Linked DNA regions of Homo sapiens: regions 2, 3, 4 and 5 are each reported to be linked to region 1. Evidence: microRNA targets listed by miRTarBase, many of them from high-throughput screens and not tested one by one. Region 1 holds a microRNA gene; each other region holds the end of a gene's coding sequence.

The links. The annotated mature microRNA hsa-miR-7974 reads AGGCUGUGAUGCUCUCCUGAGCCC and lies in region 1 at 2,466-2,489, opposite strand. An mRNA with a match to its seed (bases 2 to 7 or 8) in the 3' UTR can be bound and repressed. Matches are read on the target gene's strand: a 7mer-m8 pairs with bases 2 to 8, a 7mer-A1 pairs with bases 2 to 7 and ends in A, and an 8mer does both.
Region 2: miRTarBase lists KCTD5 as a target of hsa-miR-7974. The part of its 3' UTR that is shown has no 7-base or 8-base seed match.
Region 3: the mRNA of B4GALNT4 is a reported target of hsa-miR-7974. Seed matches in the 3' UTR shown: 8mer at 3,648-3,655.
Region 4: the mRNA of PALM2AKAP2 is a reported target of hsa-miR-7974. Seed matches in the 3' UTR shown: 7mer-m8 at 1,254-1,260.
Region 5: miRTarBase lists MARCKS as a target of hsa-miR-7974. The part of its 3' UTR that is shown has no 7-base or 8-base seed match.

The regions. Positions count from the first base shown.
Region 1 is chr19:11,493,079-11,497,302 of GRCh38, forward strand. MIR7974 (microRNA 7974) reads right to left here and starts at 2,544; the gene lies at 2,466-2,544. It overlaps ZNF653 (zinc finger protein 653), which reads right to left. Exons shown (of 9, transcript NM_138783.4): 3 at 2,872-3,087. RefSeq lists a silencer at 3,515-3,564.
Region 2 is chr16:2,706,800-2,711,023 of GRCh38, forward strand. KCTD5 (potassium channel tetramerization domain containing 5) reads left to right here. Exons shown (of 6, transcript NM_018992.4): 6 at 499-2,231. The coding sequence ends at 528. Among named protein-coding and RNA genes, the nearest start is that of PRSS27, 11 kb to the right of the region's middle.
Region 3 is chr11:381,333-385,550 of GRCh38, reverse strand. It overlaps B4GALNT4 (beta-1,4-N-acetyl-galactosaminyltransferase 4), which reads right to left. Exons shown (of 20, transcript NM_178537.5): 20 at 3,434-3,882. The coding sequence ends at 3,759. Among named protein-coding and RNA genes, the nearest start is that of PKP3, 11 kb to the left of the region's middle.
Region 4 is chr9:110,167,951-110,172,174 of GRCh38, reverse strand. PALM2AKAP2 (PALM2 and AKAP2 fusion) reads right to left here. Exons shown (of 11, transcript NM_007203.5): 11 at 1-3,776. The coding sequence ends at 3,678. Among named protein-coding and RNA genes, the nearest start is that of C9orf152, 38 kb to the left of the region's middle.
Region 5 is chr6:113,860,174-113,864,173 of GRCh38, reverse strand. It overlaps MARCKS (myristoylated alanine rich protein kinase C substrate), which reads right to left. Exons shown (of 2, transcript NM_002356.7): 2 at 699-4,000. The coding sequence ends at 3,595. Among named protein-coding and RNA genes, the nearest start is that of MARCKS, 4.8 kb to the right of the region's middle.

The DNA.
Region 1 (4,224 bases):
ACAGAGTCTTGCTCTGTTGCCCAGGCTGGAATGCAGTGGTGCGATCTTGGCTCACTGCAACCTCCGCCTCCTGGGTTTCAGTGATTCTCCTGCCTCAGCCTCCCAAGTAGCTAGGATTACAGGCATGCGCCACCATGCCCAGCTCATTTTTGTATTTTTAGTAGAGATGGGGTTTCACCATGTTGGCCAGGCTGGTCTTGAGCTCCTGGTCTCAAGTGATCCACCTGCCTCGGCCTCCCAAAGTGCTGGGATTACAGGTGTGAGCCACCGTGCCCAGCCTTTGTTTTGGGTCTTTAATGAGTAAATATGTATAAGGGTTTAGGACAGTAGGAGATTAAAAGTATGTACCCTGTAAGTTTCCTATTATTATCTCAGTGCCATTCAGGGCAGTGAGATGCCCACTGTTGATGGACCTGGGGTGGCAGCAGGGTTGGGGATAAGGAGGATCAGCCCCTCTTTCTGGATAATTTCCCCTTGTCCTGTATTCTGCAGGGTGGGCAAACTCTCTGGCACCATCCAGAAGGAGGGCGCAGTGTCCTAATGAGTGGAGGGAAGGGCCAGAGCACGCGTCTGGGTCCACCTGACTGCAGCACCTGCTAAGTTTGGCTGACCCCAGACTTCTCCTCAGGTAATGACAGCACCAACAGAAATAGCCATGGGCAAGGCCCGGTGGCATATGCCTGTAATCCCAGCACTTTGGGAGGCCAAGGCAGGAGGATTACTAGATCCCAGGAGTTTGAGACCAGCCTGGGCAACACAGTGAGATCCCATCTCTACAAAAAATTTAAAAATCAGCTGGCTGTGGTGGTGTGTGCCTGTGTTCCCAGCTACTCAGGAGGCCAGGGTGGGAGGATCACTTGAGCCCAGGAATTGGAGGCTGAAGTGAGCTATGATGGCACCACTGCACTCCAGCCTGGGCAACCGTGAGACCCTGTCTTAAAAAAAATAAATAAAAATAAAAAGCCAGGTATGGTGGCTCACACCAGTAATCCCAGCACTTAGGGAGGCCGAGGCAGGAGGATCACTTGAGGCTGGGAGTTCGAGACCAGCCTGGCCAAAGTGGTGAAAACCCACGTCTACTAAAAATACAAAAATTAGCTGGGCATGGTGGCTCACGCCTGTAATCCCAGCTACTAGGGAGGCTGAGGTGAGAGAATTGCTTCAACCTGGGAGGCAGAGGTTGCAGTGAGCCAAGATCGCACCACTGCACTCCAGCTTGGGTGACAGAGACAGAATCTGTCTCAAAAAGATAACATAACATAACATAACATAACATAACATAACATAACATAACATAACATAAAACATAACATAACATAACATAACATAAGGCCGGGTGCAGTGGCTCACGCCTGTAATCCCAGAACTTTGGAAGGCCGAGGTGGGTGGATCAACTGAGGTCAGGAGTTCAAGACCAGCCGGCCAACATGGTGAAACCCAGTGTCTACTAAAAATACAAAAATTAGCCAGGTGTGGTGGCAGATGCCTGTAATCCCAGCTACTAGGGAGGCTGAGGAAGGAGAATGGCTGGAACCTGAGGCTTGGCTTGCAGTGAGCCGAGATCGCGCCATTGCACTCCAGCCTGGGCGACAAGAGCGAGACCCTGTCTCAGATAAATAAATACATACATAAATAAATAATAAAAAGTTGAGTTGGGGCGTAAGTAAGCTGCTCTGGGCACCACCCACACCCCAGCCTGACCCATCACCAAATGGGCCAGTCAGATCACTCCTGGGGCTTGGGATTCCTTGACTGCCAAGTGGGGCTGATGACAAGGCCATGGGGAAGATTCATGGTGGCTCTGGGCAGGGCCAGGAGTGGCACACAGTGAGGGGGCAGTAAAAGGCAGAGGAGGGCGGAATGCAGATCATGGGATGGGGCAGCCGAGAGGCCACTGCACGCTGAGAGCCTGGCCGACACTTGGTGGGACGGTCGTTGGCGGGGGCGCCCACCCGGAACACCTCTCGCCCCCGGCTTCCCCTCGGCCAGCTGGGATGCCACCTGCTCCGAGATGCCAGCCAGCGCAGGCTCAGCCCTGGTGACCGCCCCACCCTCAGCCCTGACAGGACGCCTGGCAGTGTGCCCTACGCTCCTTCTCCAGCCATTGCCGAACCCCTGAGGCTGCCGGCAGCCCCCTCACCACTCACCGGGGCCAACTGAGCCTCCCTCACTGAGTCCCTGCCCCGTGGGATGGGAAGGAGAGAGGCAGGGACCGCGAAGGTGGGGAGGGAGGAGGAGAAAGGGGAATAGAAGGAAACAAGAGAAAGAGAGAGAGGGAGATGAGACAGAAAATGAAAGATCAAGGAAGGAGGAGACAGAGGCAGCTCAAGGGAGGAGAAATGGGGAACAGGAGGGAAACAGAATGGAGGGGGAAGGCAAGAAACGAAGCCTGGAAAGGCAGAAGGCAAGAGAATGCAACTGGGAGCCAGAGAAAATCGAAAAGGAGGTAGCGGCCAGCTTAGCCAGGGCTCAGGAGAGCATCACAGCCTATGAAGCCATAAGGCCTGGGTGGTTTAGGCGGCCGTTTCGCTGTGGGGGCCGAGCCCTGCCCCAGCAGGCCTGCCCCCGCCCCAGCTGCCAAGCCAGGGCTCCTGGGCCCTCAGCCAGCCCTGCCTGGGACTGGCCTTGGGCACAGATTGGCAAACTGCTCCATAAAGAGGGACTGCCTCCCCACTCAAGCTCTGTAAGGACGCAAAGAGGGCAAGGCCACGAAGGACTCAGCCTGGCCCATCGTGTCCCTGCTCTGCCCCAGTGCCAGAGCCAGAGCCAGAGCCACTGTGGCTGCTATTCTGTTTGTGATGCTAGCCTAGGGCTCGTAAGAAGCCCCCAGAAATGGGCGGCCCCCTATGTGCCCTCGCCCTGCAGACCTACCTTTGTCACTGTCAGGGTCTGAGTCGCTGAGGGGCTTCAGGGGCGAATGCAGGTCCTGGAAGTAGCGGTGGCCAGCTTCGCACTGCCACACGGCCGTGGTGTACAGGCCAAAAGTGGGGTCTAGCTCCGCCAGGTGCGGCTCGTACGGGCAGCGGTGCTTGTGGTCCTCGTACCAGATCACCACGTTCTTCAGGCAGTTCACGTTGCGTCGCCGCCCTATGGACACAGGGCCGAGGAGTGGGTATAAGGGACAGGGCTCAGCCCATGGTGACATGGCTGCCTGAACCACCGGGGCTTTATGGGTCCCATGGGTTTGGAGGCCCTCCTGAGTACCATCCAGGCCTGTACCCAGTTTAAAGGGGGAAACTGAGGCTCAGAGAGGAGAGGCACCCCCTGGAGGTAACGGGGACTGTTCTATTGGCAAAGTCATGTAAACAGTGGAGCCTGGTGCACAGTAGGTGCATAATAATTGTTAGCTGCTTGTTAATTGTTCTCATCTTCATCAAACGCCTAGACCAGCGCAGTCCTCAGGCCCAGGACTCCCAGGCTCCCGCCCTAACCACCCCCTACAGCCGCAAGGGGGCGCCTGTGAATGCCCGAGTCAAGTCTGTTCCCTCCTCTGCTCAGAATCCACTGGGCCAGGCGCAATGACTCACACCTGCAATCCTAGCACTTTGGGAGGCAGAGGCAGGCGGATCACTTAAGGCCAGGAGTTTGAAACCAGCCTGGCTAACATGGCGAAAACCCATCTTTACTAAAAATACAAAAATTGGCCGGCATGGTGGTGTATGCCTTTTGTCCCAGCTACTTGGGAGGCTGAGGTAGGAGGATCGCTTGAGCCTGGGAGGTGGAGGATGCAGTGAGCCAAGGTCGCAACACTGCACTCCAGCCTGGATGACACAGCAAGACCAACTCCCTCAGGGTAAAAGCCAAAGTCCTCCCTTCGGCCCACAAGGCCCACTGTGACTTGTCACCTCCCCGCCCTCACCCACTTGGTGACTGCACTCCACTCCAGCCACATGGCCTCCTCGCTGTTCCTGGAGCGGGCTAGGTGTGGCCCTGCCTCAGGGCCTTGGCACAGGCTGTGCCTGCTTCCTCTAGATAACTGTCTTGCTCCCTCCCCACTTCACTCAGGTCTCCCCCAAATGCATCCCCTCCAAGAGGCCACTCCCTGCCCAGTCACTCTAGCCGACCTTAACTTTGCTGTCTGTTTTCTCCAGGTAGTACCTAGATGCCATCTGTGGCCATTTGTTTACATGTGCCCTGTCTGTCTCTCCCACCAGAATGTCAGCTCCTCAAGAGCAGGAACACTGCTGTTTTGCTCCTCCTGTACCCCCAGTGCCCCCAAAGGGC
Region 2 (4,224 bases), not on the chromosome of region 1:
CGGGAGGGGCCAGCACATGAGGTGGGCTGGCCAGGCTGAGGTGCAGGGCCGAGGGCTTGGGTGAGGGGCATCTCCAGGAGGGTCCGGGCGTCGGGGTGGGGGTGGGGGCTGCAGTGGGCATGGAGGAACAGAGGGAGAGACTTAATTGGGGAGGGGGGACTGGACTGCTGAGGGACCCGCGGGCCGAGTTGCGCTTCATGTCTGAGGCCCAGGACTGAGTGGGCTGAGAGGCCCAAGAGTCAGCGCCTTTGGGTGGGTCTGGGAGGGGCTGCCATGCACAGTGAGCGCTCCCTGTGTGGGGCCTGGAGATGTGCCAGACACCCCGGTGAAGGTCCTGGGCCTGCCAGCTGAGTCCCCAAGACCCTGGCCAGTGCCGCTGGGTTCCCGGGGCTCCCCGAGCTAACCCCAGGCCTGTGGGCTCTGTTTTCTGGAGCAGGCGCCTGGTCAGGGACACCTCCTCAGCCCAAGTCCTCATTTTATGCATTTGGTGTTTTTCAGATTTTGCAAGAACGAGGCTCAAGGATGTGAGGGACACAGTATTGACAGCTGAAGAAATGATTTACGTTTTCCCGAGATGTAATGAACTGCCATGTCCAGGAAGCTTGGCTGTGAGAAGAAACCTGCTTTTGATCATTTTTCTAGAGATCTGGGTGTGAATCCTTTTTTGCCTCTGAGGTGGGTGGTGAGAGACGGGCCCAGCTGTCCAAGGCCAGACGTCCCCAAGTTGGGGGAGCACGGCGGCCGGGTGGGCGCTGCCTCTTGGGGGGGCCTCGCTCTGTTTTTTCCAAGTGCCACGTGGGACTGAGGCAGACACTCCCAGTCAGCCCGCTCGATCCTGAAGATCGTGTGAAGGAAGCGTTCTTGGTGCTACACACAGTCTGGAAAAGCAGCCTGGGCTTCACTGGCAGGAAGCGGCCGCAGCCGCGTCAGTGTCCAGCACGTCGTGGCCTCTGGTCCGACCACCAGGCCCTAGTCTCGGTCAGGGAGTCTGCTCTGCCTCCCAGGCGGGATCGCTGGTTTCTCTCGACCTCGCAGAGCTCCTGACAAAGGCGGCTTCTGCGTCGTCACTGCTTCCCGGCGCCATTCCGAGGCCGGGCCTTCTTCTGACACGGGCTCCAACCCCACCTGACCAAGCCCGGGACAGTCAAGGCTTCTCAATTTGTATTTTCCAGGCAAGAGAACTTTGTACCCCTTCTCTGTGTGGATAGACTCCCCAGCGTTTTTCCTCTGGAAATGCCCACAGGGCTTGCCGCGTGGAGACTGATCTGTTCCATCCGTTAGCGCGAGGTAGCAGTGTCGCCTCGCCCCTCCCACTGCGGGCTCACGGGGAGCTGGCGTCTGTCAGTGCCTTGTCACGCCTGGCATAGAGGTTGGGCTGGAGGCCTGTCCACTGGCTTCTGGAGCTGAAGGTCTGCGTCACGGTGAAAATTCGGGATGTTTACAGAGCATCACAAATGCCTCTCTCTCGCCGCTCTCTCATTTTCTTTGTATAACTATGCAGCCTTCCCTCTCTTTCTGGGATGTTTGGGACTTCACTCGACCTGCACGGGCTCTGCCCGACATGCCGTGGGAGCTGCTGGGATTCCTTTAGAAACCGCTGCCCGCATGCTTTGAAAACAGACCTTTCTCAGCTGGCTGTGGGGACCTGTCAGAGTCTGGGGACTCGGCGTGCAGGGCGGGCTCCAAGCGCTTTGCTTCCGGAACTCCGGCTTCCCAAGGGGTACTGTGCAGACTGACCACCGGCCTCCCGCCTGCAGGTCAGAGGCTCTGACACTGTCTGGTTTCCAATGCTTCTGGAGACTTCCTGCCTAGGCCTCATCCTCCTCTTTGCCAGTCACCTGATTAACCAATTCTCCAGCATTAGGACTTACCTCCTTCTTTTTGTAAGGTCTCTTGTATGTTGTTAAATGTTTGGCTTAAACAATTTATAAAAGCCTTTCTAGAAGGCAGACTTAGCCCCAGCAGAGCCTGGGAGGAAGGCGGCCGCTGGGGCTCCTGGGCATCCTCTCTGGGGAGCTGCTGGCCGCTTAGCGTTGTTTGATTTTTGACCTTGACATAGTAGATAGGCTTGTGGTTTTTTTAATTTAAAGATATTAAGACTTAATTCACTAAAATTTATTCTAAGGGGATATTTATACTTTTATACTTTTTTAGGTATCGTATTTTATCAGCTTACAGTTTAATGCCTAAGTTTCCCCTGGAAATAGCAAATAAAATTGTGTATTTATGAATGCGCGTAGTAGCTGTTTATGGTCTTAAGATGCAGGGGAATGCCACCCCGGGTCGCTCGGACCAAGGTGCTGCCCCTCCAAGCCGCCCAGCCCCACTGGCCGCGGCGGCTCACTCAGGGCTCTGCCTCTGCCTCTCAGTCGATGGCCAGGGCGGAGCTGGGCCATCCACGGGGTGCCGGCTTGGCCAGGGTCACTGGATCAGAGCTGCACGGCCCATCCCTGCACCCCACTCTGCCTGGACCCCTCACCTACCTCCAGCAGATAGCATACCCCCATCCCGGGAGACCGGAGACCATGTACAAGGGCCTTTTTTTTTCCTTAAGAGACAGGGGTCTTGCTATGTTGCCCAGGCTGGTCTTGAACTGCTGGGCTCAAGTGATCCTCCTGCCTCAGCCTCCTGAGCAGTTGGGATTACAGGCGTGAGCCATTGCGCGCGGCTCAAGTGATGTTTTTTTGAAAGTCCTGATACCTCAAGTTAGCATCCACCTCTCTTCCCTCACTTTAGCCTGCAGCCTGGGTTGTGACAGCAGGAGCTTCCCGAGAAGGTCCTGGGGTCCCGGCACCCCCTCGCCAGCTGCTGTGACTCCTCCTGGTGGCTGCTCCACGAAGCCTTGGCTGTTGGACTCCCCGCCCCCCCGCAGGGAGATTCCCATTCACGGTGTCCCCCAGGGCCTGGCTGTCTGAGGTCACAGAGCCTCAGGCTGTAGTGGCCTTGTCCATCCTGTTTCCAGGTGTGTGGCTGGCCCAGCCTGACCCCAGGGCCCTGGTGAGGGGTGGAGTGGGTGACTGGGCTTCTGGGTGCCCAGCATGAGGCCGGCACGGGGCTTGGAGTAGGGGAGAGACCCAGTTTCTGCTCCAAGGGGTCTTCCCGCTGCCCGACTCCCACCAGGAGCCTGGCTAGGCCTTACAGCCCCTTGACCAGGTAGAGTTGTGGGCACTTGGGAGAAGCCTCAGCGTGGCAGGCGTCCCCAGCCAAAGCCCGGAGCAGGTTTCCCATCCAAGCAAAAGGCTGTAAAGGAGACAGGCCCTGCAGTTTGGGTCCTGAAGCCGAGGATGCTCAGGGCCGCTGGGTCTGCTGGGCAGGGAGGGAGCCCTGTTCCTCCTCAGACCTTGGGCTCCAGCACAGCCCGCCCGCTGTGGGGACTGGGGCCCAGCCCTGTGGCTCCAGGAAGCCAGCGTGGGGGCAGAAGAGGAGGCAGGGGCGGGGCACATGCAGGTGCCCTGCGTGGGTGCCCGTCCTCCCCAGGCTTCCTGTAGAGCCCATGACTGGAGCCCTCCAGCGGCTGGCACCACCCTCCTTGACATCCCTGCATTTATTGGTGTCCACTCAGCAGGGACTTCTAGCACCCTCCTTCCTCCTAAAGCTCGTGGCAGTGGCCGGCTGGGGCGATGAAGAGCTGACCCCACAGTGCAGCCACCAAGGCCCTGACGTGGCATCTGTGTGAGGGACGATGACTTCCGGCACCTCTGCACTGAGCCGTGCCCCCCAAGATGGGTCACTTTGCCCTCAGACCACCTCTTCCTCCCCAGTGTTCCCAGGCCTGGGGCTCGGCACAGGGAGGCCTGGCCTGTGGCTGACCCCTCACCGCAGTTCTGGCCCGAATGGAGCCCACAGACTTCTTTCCTGGGGCTCCCGCTCCTGCTCTGTGTGTGTGTGTGTGTGTGTGTGTGTGTGTGTGTGTGTGTGTGTACCTACTGGCTGTACATGGTGTGGGTGTGGTGTGTGCCTGTGTGCACATGGTGTGTGTGGCATGCACATGTGTGCTGTATGTGATGTGTGGCATGTGGTGTGTGCTTGGTATGTGGTGTGTGCCTGTGTGTGGCATGTGACATGCATGTGTTGTGTGTGCCTGTGAGTGGCATGGGAATGGTGTGTGTATGTGTGCACATGGGCCAGCTGAGCCTGGGGATGAAGGCTGCCGCCCGCTCTGCCTACCTCCCTGTGAGCCACAGAATGTGCGCGGGCCTGTGCCAGGCTCTCCCTCGAGTCCCT
Region 3 (4,218 bases), not on the chromosome of region 1:
GTGGGGGTTCCAGGCCTGGGAGTGGGTCTTGCCCGGCTGTGGGGGTTCCAGGCCTGGGAGTGGGTCTTGCCCGGCTGTGGGGGTTCCAGGCCTGGGAGTGGGTCTTGCCCGGCTGTGGGGGTTCCAGGCCTGGGAGTGGGTCTTGCCCGGCTGTGGGGGTTCCAGGCCTGGGAGTGGGTCTTGCCCGGCTGTGGGGGTTCCAGGCCTGGGAGTGGGTCTTGCCCGGCTGTGGGGGTTCCAGGCCTGGGAGTGGGTCTTGCCCGGCTGTGGGGGTTCCAGGCCTGGGAGTGGGTCTTGCCCGGCTGTGGGGGTTCCAGGCCTGGGAGTGGGTCTTGCCCGGCTGTGGGGGTTCCAGGCCTGGGAGTGGGTCTTGCCCGGCTGTGGGGGTTCCAGGCCTGGGAGTGGGTCTTGCCCGGCTGTGGGGGTTCCAGGCCTGGGAGTGGGTCTTGCCCGGCTGTGGGGGTTCCAGGCCTGGGAGTGGGTCTTGCCCGGCTGTGGGGGTTCCAGGCCTGGGAGTGGGTCTTGCCCGGCTGTGGGGGTTCCAGGCCTGGGAGTGGGTCTTGCCCGGCTGTGGGGGTTCCAGGCCTGGGAGTGGGTCTTGCCCGGCTGTGGGGGTTCCAGGCCTGGGAGTGGGTCTTGCCCAGCTGTGTGAGGGTGGGGGTGGCACCGTCGGCAGCCTTGGGGACATGGGGCACTGGGGACCTGCTGCCGCCACTGCTGCTCCTGCAGTCATCCTGCTCCCCTGTCCGCCTCCTTGCAGCCTGGGGTGAAGACTTTCGGCCCTCACAGAGCCCGGGTCGGCATCCGGGGCAGAGGGAGGCGATGTCACCACAAGATCCCCCTGCAGTTCCAACACTCAGGGGCAGCCTGGGGCCGCCCCTCACCCGACTCGCAACCATGCTGGGAGACACCTCTGGGAGCGGACTGTGGGCCCCGGTTCCAGCTACTGGAAGCACCAGGCTCCGCAGGGGCAGCAGGAGCAGGTACTTCTGAGCCTACAGGGGGCCGGGTGGGGGCCTTCCTGGGCCCCCAAGAGCACAGGAATATTGAGGTGCACGCAAACGAACCCAGTGCCCAGGAGGGCCGAGCTCCTGCCTGCTCTGTGGAGTGGGAGGCCCTGCCATGCCTCTCCGCTGCGGCCAGCATCTTGGCAGTGTCCACTCTAGATGGGCCACCGCTGCCATCACTCCTGCCTCAGCCTCCCGAAGTGCTGAGATTACAGGTGTGAGCCACTATGCCCAGCCTTATCATTGATTTTTAAGAAATTTCCTCAAAGGCTGCCGCTGACCCCTGCCCTCCCCCGCCTGTGTCCTCGGCCGCCTTCACCTTCTCACGCTTGGTCTTTCTGAGCACCCTGCTTAGAAACGCAGTCACGCTCACATGGGCTGCTGCCTTCCCGGGCTTCCTTTCTCTCCACTGCCCTTGCCGCCAGCTGGTATACCAGATGTGTTATTGATGGCGTCGTCGTGCCCCGCTCCCCCCCGTATTAGAATGTAAGATCCTTGGGGGCAGCAGTTTTTGTCTGTTCCGTTCCCTGCCTTTTCCTCAGTGCGGGACATGTAGTGAGTGTGCAATGAATCATTGCTAAACGGATTAAATGATGGTGTGAATCGTCCAGATTACATGGAATTTTGACTTTTTTGTTTTCCAAGGTTAATTCTCTTTCTGATGTGCAGGCTTCCCCTGCCTGTGGTTTACATTTCTTCTATCCTTTTCTCATTTTCTTGGGTTAGCGTGGATCATTAAATCCAAGGCTAGTTCTTCTCTTGCTGCGAAACATCTGTGAGTGGGGACAAGTCCATCTGAACTAGATACACAGGGATCAGCGGGCAGGACAGCTGGTCAGCACATGGCTTCTGGGCATGTGTGTGGCCAGCCATGTCCCCTGCCCTGCGGGCACCTCTGTGGACCTGCACACCTGTGGACCAGCAGGACCTGTGAAGCCCACACCAGGCGACTGGATGCCGCTCTGGTCCACGGCAGGTCCCCCTGGTTCTTCCTTCGGCTCCACCGCCCAGCTGCCGTGAGTGCACGGTGAGCAGTGACCTCAGGACGTATCTGCAGAGGACAATTCTGGCTGCTGGGCCTAGGAGCTATTTTCCCACCCCGTGTGAACGAGGAGGTAGAAAGAAGAGTGACCGCTCAAGATGTGCCTGTCCTAGTCCCAGAACCTGTGACTGTTACCTTCATGGCAAAGGGGTTTTGCAGATGTGACTGAGTGAGGGACGTGATGGTTATCGTGGGTTTGCTGGGAGGGCCCAGTGTCATCGCAGGGGGCCTTATAAGAGAAGGCAGCAGGGTCAGAGTCACAGGAGGAGATGAGGGAGAGAGGGAGAGAGAGAGTGAGTGAGAGAGGGGAAGAGGCCAAGCTGCTGAAATCCAGGTGGCCTTGAGAAGCTGGAGAAGGCACGGACGCAGACTCACACCTAAGTCTCCCGAAGGAACCAGCCCTGCTGACACCTTAATTTTAGCATTTTTTTTTTCCGAGACAGGGCCTTGCTCTGTTTCCCAGGCTGGAGTGCAGTGATGCAACCACAGCTCACTGCAGCCCTGACCTCCCGGGCTCAGGTGATCCTCCTGCCTCAACCTTCCAAGTAGTTGGGACTACAGGTACACACCACCGTGTCTAGGGATCCGGACGCTTCAGCCTCCCAAAGTACTGGGATTACAGGCGTGAGCCACTGTGCCGGGCTTAGTTCTAGGACTTTTTATCTCCAGAACTGTAAGATAATAATTTTTTTAAGCCACTACATTTGTGCCAATTTGCTACGGCAGCCACAGGGAACTCACACACTCACTCGCTGCCTGGCAGAGTACAGCCTCCCTCCTGTGACCTGGCCCAGGCCAGGACTGAGCTGGACCCACAGGCAGAGAGGAGACAAGGCAGGAGTGGGCTTCGACCAGCCTCTGAGTCTGTCCTTCTCTGGTGTCCTGCTGACCCTGACCTGGAGGGTTCCAAAGTCATACAGGCCCCCTGATTACGGCTTCACTGGCTTGAGTTGGGTTTCTGTTTCTGGCAACCCTGAGTTCTGCCTGATCACCCCCAACCCCAGCACACGACATGCCCCACCTGGGTGCAGCAGCTCCTCCACCCTAGAGGAGGCTGGGGTGGGAATGACACCCCGATTCTGTTTGCAGAATGAGGGGAACTGAGGTGGTGACTGCTCATTCCTCGCCTCAGTGTGGGAGGGCCCTGTGCTATCTATGTCTGTTATCAGCGGGCACAGACCCCATAGACACAGGGCGGAGGAAGTCGGAAGCCCCCTCCCCACAGGGCCCGGCACAGAACCTCACAGGCAGGAAGGGGAAAGTGGTCTTGGGGGTAGGAGAAGGAGAGGTCCGGAAGGGCTGCGGCTGGGAGTCAGGAGGTCGTGCTCAGGGTCCCCCAGGGGAGAGGACTCTACCTCTCAAGAGAACAGGCACAGAGGACTAGTCAGAACTAAAAAAAATATTTCATTTCATTCTGAATAAAAAACAGAACAGACAGAACTCTTGGAAATTCTGAAAACAATGTCATCGCTACAGCAAAATTTCACAGAAATCATCGCAGAGTGGGGACCAAGGCCAGGCCCTGACCCGCCGTGAAGGCTGCCTCTCCGGGGAGGGGCACGACGCCCAGTGGGCCAGAGAGGGGCAGGCACAGGCGGTGGCTGTGCCCCTCTGACCAGCCCTGCCGGGTCTCTCGGGACCGAGCTCAAAGCCCAGCCCCCAGCAGCTGCCTCGGGACTCCCACCGGGGCTGGGAGGGGCTGCCCGTCCTCAAGACGCCCCCGTGCGAGAGCCCTTCCTGCTGCGGACGCTCCACATGCCCCTCTTGGAGTGGTAGTGGTGATAGAAATTCCGCAGTCGGAGCCGCTCCACCTCCAGCCCTGCCTGCAGGACCCTGGGGCCGGGGGCAGAGAGGTGGTCAGGACCCCGGGGTTGGGGACGGAGAGGTGGTCAGGACCCCGGGGCCGGGGGCGGAGAGGTGGTCAGGAACCCGGGGCCGGGGGCGGAGAGGTGGTCAGGACCCCGGGGCCGGGGGCGGAGAGGTGGTCAGGAACCCGGGGCCGGGGGCGGAGAGGTGGTCAGGACCCCGGGGCCGGGGGCGGAGAGGTGGTCAGGAACCCGGGGCCGGGGGCGGAGAGGTGGTCAGGACCCCGGGGCCGGGGGCGGAGAGGTGGTCAGGAACCCGGGGCCGGGGGCGGAGAGGTGGTCAGGACCCCGGGGCCGGGGGCGG
Region 4 (4,224 bases), not on the chromosome of region 1:
AATACATAGTTTAATTAAATCCATTCTTTAGTTGGGAAAAAAAAGGTTTAATTATTTGTCTTCAGAGACAAGAATCAACACTGTTTTAGTGTTCCTTGTTACACTTTATATATATATATGTGTGTGTGTATATATATGTGGACATTGATCTATATACGGCTTATATGTCATTGTCTAGGGTGAGCAGCATGCATGGGTATGAAGAGGCAAGTAAACTGCATTGTGTCATCCAAGTAAAACACAGCACGGCCTCCTGCCACTGACAGACCCTGTTTCCATAATTTCTGGATGAGAAAGCCAAGTCATGTCAGTAGTTAATCAGCTCTGGAGGAAAGTGAACACCTATAAACACGGCAGAATGCAATACTTCCAGAAAGGCTTTTAACACCTACAGAATCTAAACATTTTGTAAGAGGTGGGGTTAACAAGCTTGTGTGCTATTTGGGGGTGGGGCTGAGCATCAGAGGCAAAGTTTTTCGTAAGCCTCTTTCTCTCGATGGATTAGGCAGGAATGACTTTCCTCCAGGGGACGGTCCCATCTTCAGAAAGTTAAAAGGGTCCATTTGGGATCCCAGAGCCTAGCACGGTGCTATGTACAAAGCGGTGGCCCAAGGTTTCTTGAATGAATAAAAAACTCAAGAGCACAGAGAAAATCTGGCTCTCCCAAGTAAACTGTAATTTACATTTTCATGGGATTATAATAGGATCTTCAGTGAGTGGAGCAAGAAGATAGACAGCAGTAATCCGGAAGGCAGCATAGGAGTAATAGCAAAAGTTAAGAGATGTAGGGGCCACAGTGAAAACAGCTTTGTGACTGTGGGAGAGTCCCAGAAACAGTATTTCTTTCCTTATCCACACACGGAGCATGGCCCAAGAACCCCCAGCTCTAGAACTCTGTTATTCTTTAAGCAATAAGTGCTCTGGTTCAATCAACTGTGGTCAAAGACCACTTCATCTGCCTCTAAAGCCATTCCGCGAATAGTGTGGCCTCTTAAGCTTTTCTCTTAGCTGTACATTCTCTTGTCAACTGTAGGTTTCATGAAGCACATGGTTTCCTTCAAAACAGAACAAAAAACTTTAAGGTAAGTCATAAGGATGGTTTCCTCTTGTGAAAAATGGGGAAGTTAGTCTATATCATGTCTATGGTCTCTACCAGATCCATGAGTCAGAGAAAACATGAAGCGCATCACATTTTTTGGGCAACCCATAGAACTATCCTACTCTCCAGCCATCCTAACTGCCACTGTGCCTGGGGCTGTGCAATGCTGCTGCCTCCTCTGTTCTTATCCCTGTGTCTGCTTTGGGAACGCCCCCTTATCGCTGGGTTCTCAGCCCAGGCATCTGGGACCTCTGGCTAGAAATCCTCAGGTAAAGACGATCCTCCTTCCTGAGTCCTCCCATTTCACATCAGGACTTCTAATCTAACACGGATCTCATTTTCCTGAGAATTTTAGTCTCCATGCCAACCTCCCTCACTATAAAATGAATTTCTTGCAACAGGGATCTTACTTGTTTTGCGTCCCCAGTGGCTAGCACATTTTGTTGAGAATTCATTCAAAATATTCAGGAGACTCAACCATATAAAGATGGTGCCAATTGCCCATGTGCTATTTGGGCTGCCATCTGTAGGATGTGGCTTCAAGTTAGAGCTCCCTTGGCAGTTTTAAAGGATCCTTGTTAGTAGATGGTTCCATTTTTTACTTTGTGCCTACTTCTCATTTGTGAATAAATGTCCCCCCCCAAAGTCAACACTAGTCTAATAAAAGAAGCAAAGGAAATGTGCGTTAACATCTACATACAAATTTTGTGAAATTGCTACTTGTTAGAATAACATAATAGAGCTTATGACATAACAATATAAAAACAAAAATGATTTTTAGTGAGGTCTGAGTTAATTATTGCTTTTTTAAAAAACCACAGTTTTAAAACAAAGGAAAAAAAAAGAAGGCTGTTTATTTTTTTTTCTTTCTCATGGCCAGAATTGAAAATTTTCTCATCCAGAAATTTAGGGCACCCAATTATTGAATACCCTTATCATATTGCTTTAAATGACAGAAAGATTAAAGCTGGCATCCTCTATAGTATACTAAGCATGAATGTAAAGTATGAGAATAAATAGGAGACTCTCCTAAATGTCAAATTACAAAACCGCTCAAAACTTTGTAATTGTGACTCATGCAAATACCTTGTTAGGTCAACTTAATATTACAAATACTGCATCAGCTCGGTGCCTTTATATCCCTTTTCATAAAAAAGAAATTCTCACTCCACTCCTGAAGCCAGCAAACAGCTCTGGAGGAATTACCTGTACACCCAAGTGCCACGGTCACTCTGGAATTTTAATACACACACACACACACCCTTACTCATGAACATACACATTTTACAAACACACAATGGTGTACACACACACACACACACATCCACACACACCCCATCTTTAGGATTTGTAGCTGATTCCAAGCCTGCACTTATTTCTATTCTATATTTTTCTTTGTATCATCCTGAAACACACTGGTTGCTCAGCAAAAATAGTATCTCTTACCTCCTTATTTTATTCCCATTCTTTCTCCTTCCCTCCCTTTTTCTCTCTCTACCTTCCTGACTTTTCTTTCGTGTTTCCTTTCTGATTGATCCAAAAGGAATCCATCATTCTTCTTCCTATCTCTAAGGCCCACTTTATAATACAAAATAGTTATAAACACCTTTTTATTTCTTATCATCTACCTCTCCAAGGCAGAGTTCGCCTTTTTTTTCAATTATTGCCGCTCTAAAAATGCCCCCACCATCTTGAACCAAGTTGTTCAACGCGTACAGATTCTATACGTGTATATACTCCCCCATCCCATCATAAAAATAGTTGTTGCCCACTAAATATAGTTTTCCTATGAAGAAACATAACTGTGAAAATGTGTTCTCATAAACTGCAGATCAGTGAATATTATAAGCAGACACGATCCTAAAGCTAACATCATCCATTTGGTTTGTTTTTCTCTTCCCCTTTCTCAGCCTCCTCATGTAGAATAGATTGTGTTTGTGACATGAAGAACTATTGTCTTAAAATATGGATTTTATGAATTGTGATCATGAGTTGTTCTCAATTAAAAATAATTAAATGTAGGAGAAGTGGAATCATAACTGCCTCTTCTGGGCAAATATGGAGAGAAACGCCATTCATTTTATGGCTGCTGGAGAAAATGGAGTTAATGCAACACCCTCTGATGCTGCAAGTGACAGGTGGGAAACTGGTGCAGGGAAATATCCTGTGCCATGTAGGCTGCACCAGCCTGGGCCCTACTGCTCTCTAAGTGGCCCTACCACCATTGTCCTTCATCGCCCAGAGAGGCTGGTCTCAGTTCCGCCTGCAGCAACTATGTTGATTTGCTTGTAACATGTTTTGTCCTTTTGGATCCATTGTAGATTGGCCCCAAACCAGACACTGGGATTGAGTCACCAAAAAAGTCCTTTCTCTTTTGATTCCTGGGTGTCCAGAGTCTGATGGGGGGACTTCCTTTTCGTTTCATTTTCATCATTGTATATTGCAGCTTCTGGTCTACATAAGGATTGCTGAGTTTGTTTGCACTTTAATAAATAGTCCATTAAAATGCTTTCAGTTGTTAATTTCTTGGTTTCTTGGTCTCCCAAGCACCAAAGACGCTTCCTGGGTTGAAGGAAGTTTATTCGTTGTCTTCTTCCTCCTGGTTGGCATAGATCCCTGCTTCCCAGCGCAAAGCCAGTGCGCTCTTTCTTCGATTAACCCGTGTGGCCTCGAGGACCTGTAAAGAGAGGGGAAAAAATTATGCAGAGTTCATGGATGTTAATTATGAACATAAACCGACTTCTCTGTTTCTTTCTTCCTTTCTCTTTATCAACTTGAGAGGAGAAAGTGATAAAGCACTGCTGGGAGATAGGAGAGACGCTGGAAAAAGGGGAATGGGAGGTTCTGGTTATGCATTCATCTCACAGCCAGTATTCATCTGCTACTTGACCCCTAGTTTTCACCATAGAGAAATTTAATTTTCATGAAATGTTCTGCAAGTTTCTTTGAACTAGCCGTGATTCTGCATCAAGTTTTCAGATAAAGCAGATCCCTACACGCAGCAGATCAGTGCTGTCCAATTGAACTTTATGCAATGATGAAAACGTATCTCTGCTATCCAGTATGGTAGCCACTAGCCATACGTGGCTATTGAGCACTTGAAATAGGGCTAGTGTGGCTGAGAA
Region 5 (4,000 bases), not on the chromosome of region 1:
TAAAATTCCTGTGTGGCACACTCTACTTTCATAGGATGTGGAGAGGGGAAAAAAATGCTCAATATGCAGTGAATGATTAAAGGGAAGTTAAAATCTAATAGATCTCTTACTTACTTTTAAAAATTTTCAAACTTGACTGAGGCTACATTAAACTATACTCCCCTACCAACTGCTAGTCAAGGATCTATCTAAAAAATATGACTGCATGTCCAGGGATGTGTGGTGGCTCATGCCTGTAATCCTAGAACTTTGGGAGGCCGAGGCAGGAGGATCGTTTGAGCCCAGAGTTCAAGACCAGCCTGAGCAACATAGTAAGACACCTGCCTATAAGTAAATAAATAAACATATATATATATATATATATATATATATATATATATATATGGCTGTGAAAAGTACCTTACCCCAAATCCTTAACTTTAATTGAAAAGATATATTGTTTATATTCATATGATAAAAAAATTGCATTGTTTCTCAAATATGTTATCAAGTTCTATCGTTAAAATTTTTAATTGGCTTGGGGGCATACAACTCACCTTCAATGGATATAATTTTATTTGTTAAATATAATGCCAAGCATATCATTTAAATCTCTTAAACTGAATGCTTACCTTTAACACTTAAGATTTAAAAATTTTCTCTAAAAATATTTGCATTTTAAAATAAAATTTGTAAAAAAAAATCCTATTTTAGCAGGCTTGATTATATCAACTGGTAAAACTTTATTTTACAAGCAATAGGAATTGGATCAAATGATTATTATAACCCAGAGGAAGTATTTTGTAACCACAGCAAATGCCATTATACATACTGCCAATACAGATTTAATAGACAATACTGAACTGTACAAGAGTTATTTATTTTTCCTTAATCTCAAAGCTATTTTTAGTAATACAAAAAAGCCATATTAACATTTTTTTCCGTTAGAAAACATGATGTACAAAACTTTGGATGAAAAGATACGTCAAATTTCATTTAATCACTTGGAGGAAAATCCACCAACTCCATCAATACCACCCAAAGTGTTTTAGGCAGTGAATAAAATCAAAATAATGCATCTTAATAAATTCCAGCTGTTAAAAGAACAAACTTAGCAATATATAACAGTTTGCTAACAGGATTTTTGACTATTCACTTTGGGAGTTATTTTTAAAAATCCACTTTTTTACTGAGTCTTACTACATACCAGGCACTGTACTTGGCCATCTAGGTAACTAAGAAAACGTTGGTTAAGATAGGAAAGACCCATAAATCAGTCCTTTGGTTACCAAATTCAATTTTTAACTTTCAAACATCCTCCAAGATCAAGAAACCCTAACTAAAAATACATACCCTTCTAAGTGTTATTTGATTTTATTAGTAGCAAGGGTGTTTGGTAAGGTCATGAACCACTATTTTTGATCCATTATTCCAATTAAGAATGCGTGTCAAAACCTAATTTGTTATTTTTCTAATGAGTTTAAGATTTGGCATTCAGTTGTTACACATGTGGTTCAATGATTTATCATGAACCCTAAACTGCACACTGCTCAAAAACAGCAAAACAGATGTGCATTAAATGAAATAATGTTTTTGATACATATCTTAAATTTCAATCAGTTTAGGGTCCTTTGAAGGAAAAGATATCCAGTTATCGGGTGGCAAAGAGCAGAGGAGGTAAACTAGTAAAGATTATTAAGATTCAGTGAAGTATTATTGTCTGTCTTATCCTTTGAGTAACAAGATGCTAACACACTTTCAAAAAAAAAAAAAAAAAAGGATGCTTAAAACTATGCTAAAGGCCCATGAACTGACATCATCCATTCAACACCATTACTTTGTTACATAAACCTGTTTTCTTAAGGTAGAACATATTATGCAATAATTTGGAAATTAGCCAAGCACTAAGCAATTACAATAGCAGGTAATACACCATCAATTTTTGAAACACATTTGGTCACATTTCATGACCCATCTGCAGTATGGATTCTATAGACTCTCACTCAGTTTAAAATTTGTTTCTGGACCTGAATGACAAGAGAATGGCTTTATGAAATTTTCTCATAAGACATTTAAATAGTCTTAGGTTCACACCCCTTTTGTTGTAAATGATTTAATCTGACATGCTATATAGCTACAATAAAAATAATTATGTTCAATTCTTAAATGAAAACTAAATGCCAATAAATGGTAACAGATTTGACATGGAAATGTTGTAAGATCTTCCTCTACGTAATCTGACACTGCGGATTATGAATTTCAGAGCTTGAAAACTTCAGATTAAGAACCACAATAAAATTTACTCCTGATGGCATGCAAGATCTTCCTAAAAATTAACCTAAGACCTAGAAGTCTCAGTATTATTAGAACATAAAAAAACACAACAAATTTGTACATTTTATTCACATTTATTTTTCGCTTTTAGTGTGCTCACAGAAAATTAGAACACCTTAAGCAGGAGTTTAATAGCAATTTTTGTAAGCAAAGTTACATTCCATCTCTAAGTCAAATTGGTCAAAGCTTCTCCAGTATTTACAAAACATGATAGACAAGATGCTACACAAAACCATTGCATCTGAAGATTTTTTTTCCTTTATTCTCAAAGACGACTGGAAAAGAAAGCATTATCTGCTGTAATCAAAAACATACCACAGTATAAACAGTAACCATTCCACTTATCACAGCTTGGTTGAGTTTAAAATTTGTGTTTTAAAAGGTCCAAGATGACTGCAGTTTTACAAAAATGGGCAGGGTGGAAAGTTGCAAACTTCATGTGCTTCTGGATATCAAGATTTGTTTTTATACAATAGTCACAGTTAAAAACACCCTGCTGGTAATACATAATTACACTTTATTAAGGTCATAAACCAGCAATAAACAATAAAGCCTATACAACTTGTAGTTCTACTTAATCACTGACTGGTACAGCTAACATGAGATAAGTGAAAAGTTCCTATGGTTTAAATGAACTCCTAAGACTATGATCGTTTTTTTTTTTTTAAATCTGGGTATTGGTGTTTTTTCTTTTTTCCTCTTTCCTTCTTAACTCAAGACTTGTAGTGTTGTAAACCTGCCTCACAAAATACATGGTAATAACTTTTCTTTTAAAAAAAAAAAAAAGACAGCCTTTACACCATTTCTAGTGGCACACTATTTTGGCAATGTTATGCACCACTTCAATTTCCCCATTGTGACCCCATCACTTCATTTGATATCCCTTTTTGACCCACCCATCTCCTTCATATATGGGCATGTCCATAGATTGACAAAGAAAGTTTACACTTTTGAATAAAGATGCAAAGTATGCAAAAACATTAATACTGATGCGAAAAAATAAAAAATAAAAGAGAAACAAGGCAGAGGAAGAAGGTGTTTAAGCTCTCCTCGACCTGTTGGAATGGTGGTTAACAGAATGATTTGAGATGGGATCTGTGGGGAGGGGAGAAAAAAAAAAAACAACAAAATTTGGTGCTTAAAAAAAAGTAAAATAAAAAAAGACATCTTTAAAATCAATCCCTGGTTGTAGACAAGTTCTCCAAAACCAGTACCTGGCACCACTCCAACAAACAAACGGGGGAGAAAAGTTCTTCGATTATCTCACAAAAGCTTGCTCTTTTACTCTGCCGCCTCCGCTGGGGGGGCTTCTGGACTGCACTCGGGCTGGGCCTCCTGTGAGGGGGCTGCGCAGGCTGACGAGGCTGCGGCGGCCGCGGGCTCCTCCGCGGGGGCTGCCTCCTGCTCCGGGGGCGCGCCGGGCCCGGCGGCGGAGGGGGCCTCGCAGGCGGCGGCGCTGGCCCCGGCCTCCTCGGCCTTTTTCTCCTCCACCTTGCTGGGCTCCTCGGCGGCCTTGGTCTCGTCGCTGGCGGGCGGCTTCTCTGGCGCGACAGCGGCCTCCTGGGGCTTGGCCTCCTGCGGGTCGCCACCCGCCGCCCCCTCCTCGCCCGCTGCCGCCTCCTCGCCCGGCGCCGCTGCCTGCTCCCCGGAGGCCGCGCCCGCCTCGGCGGCGGCCGCAGCTGCGCCC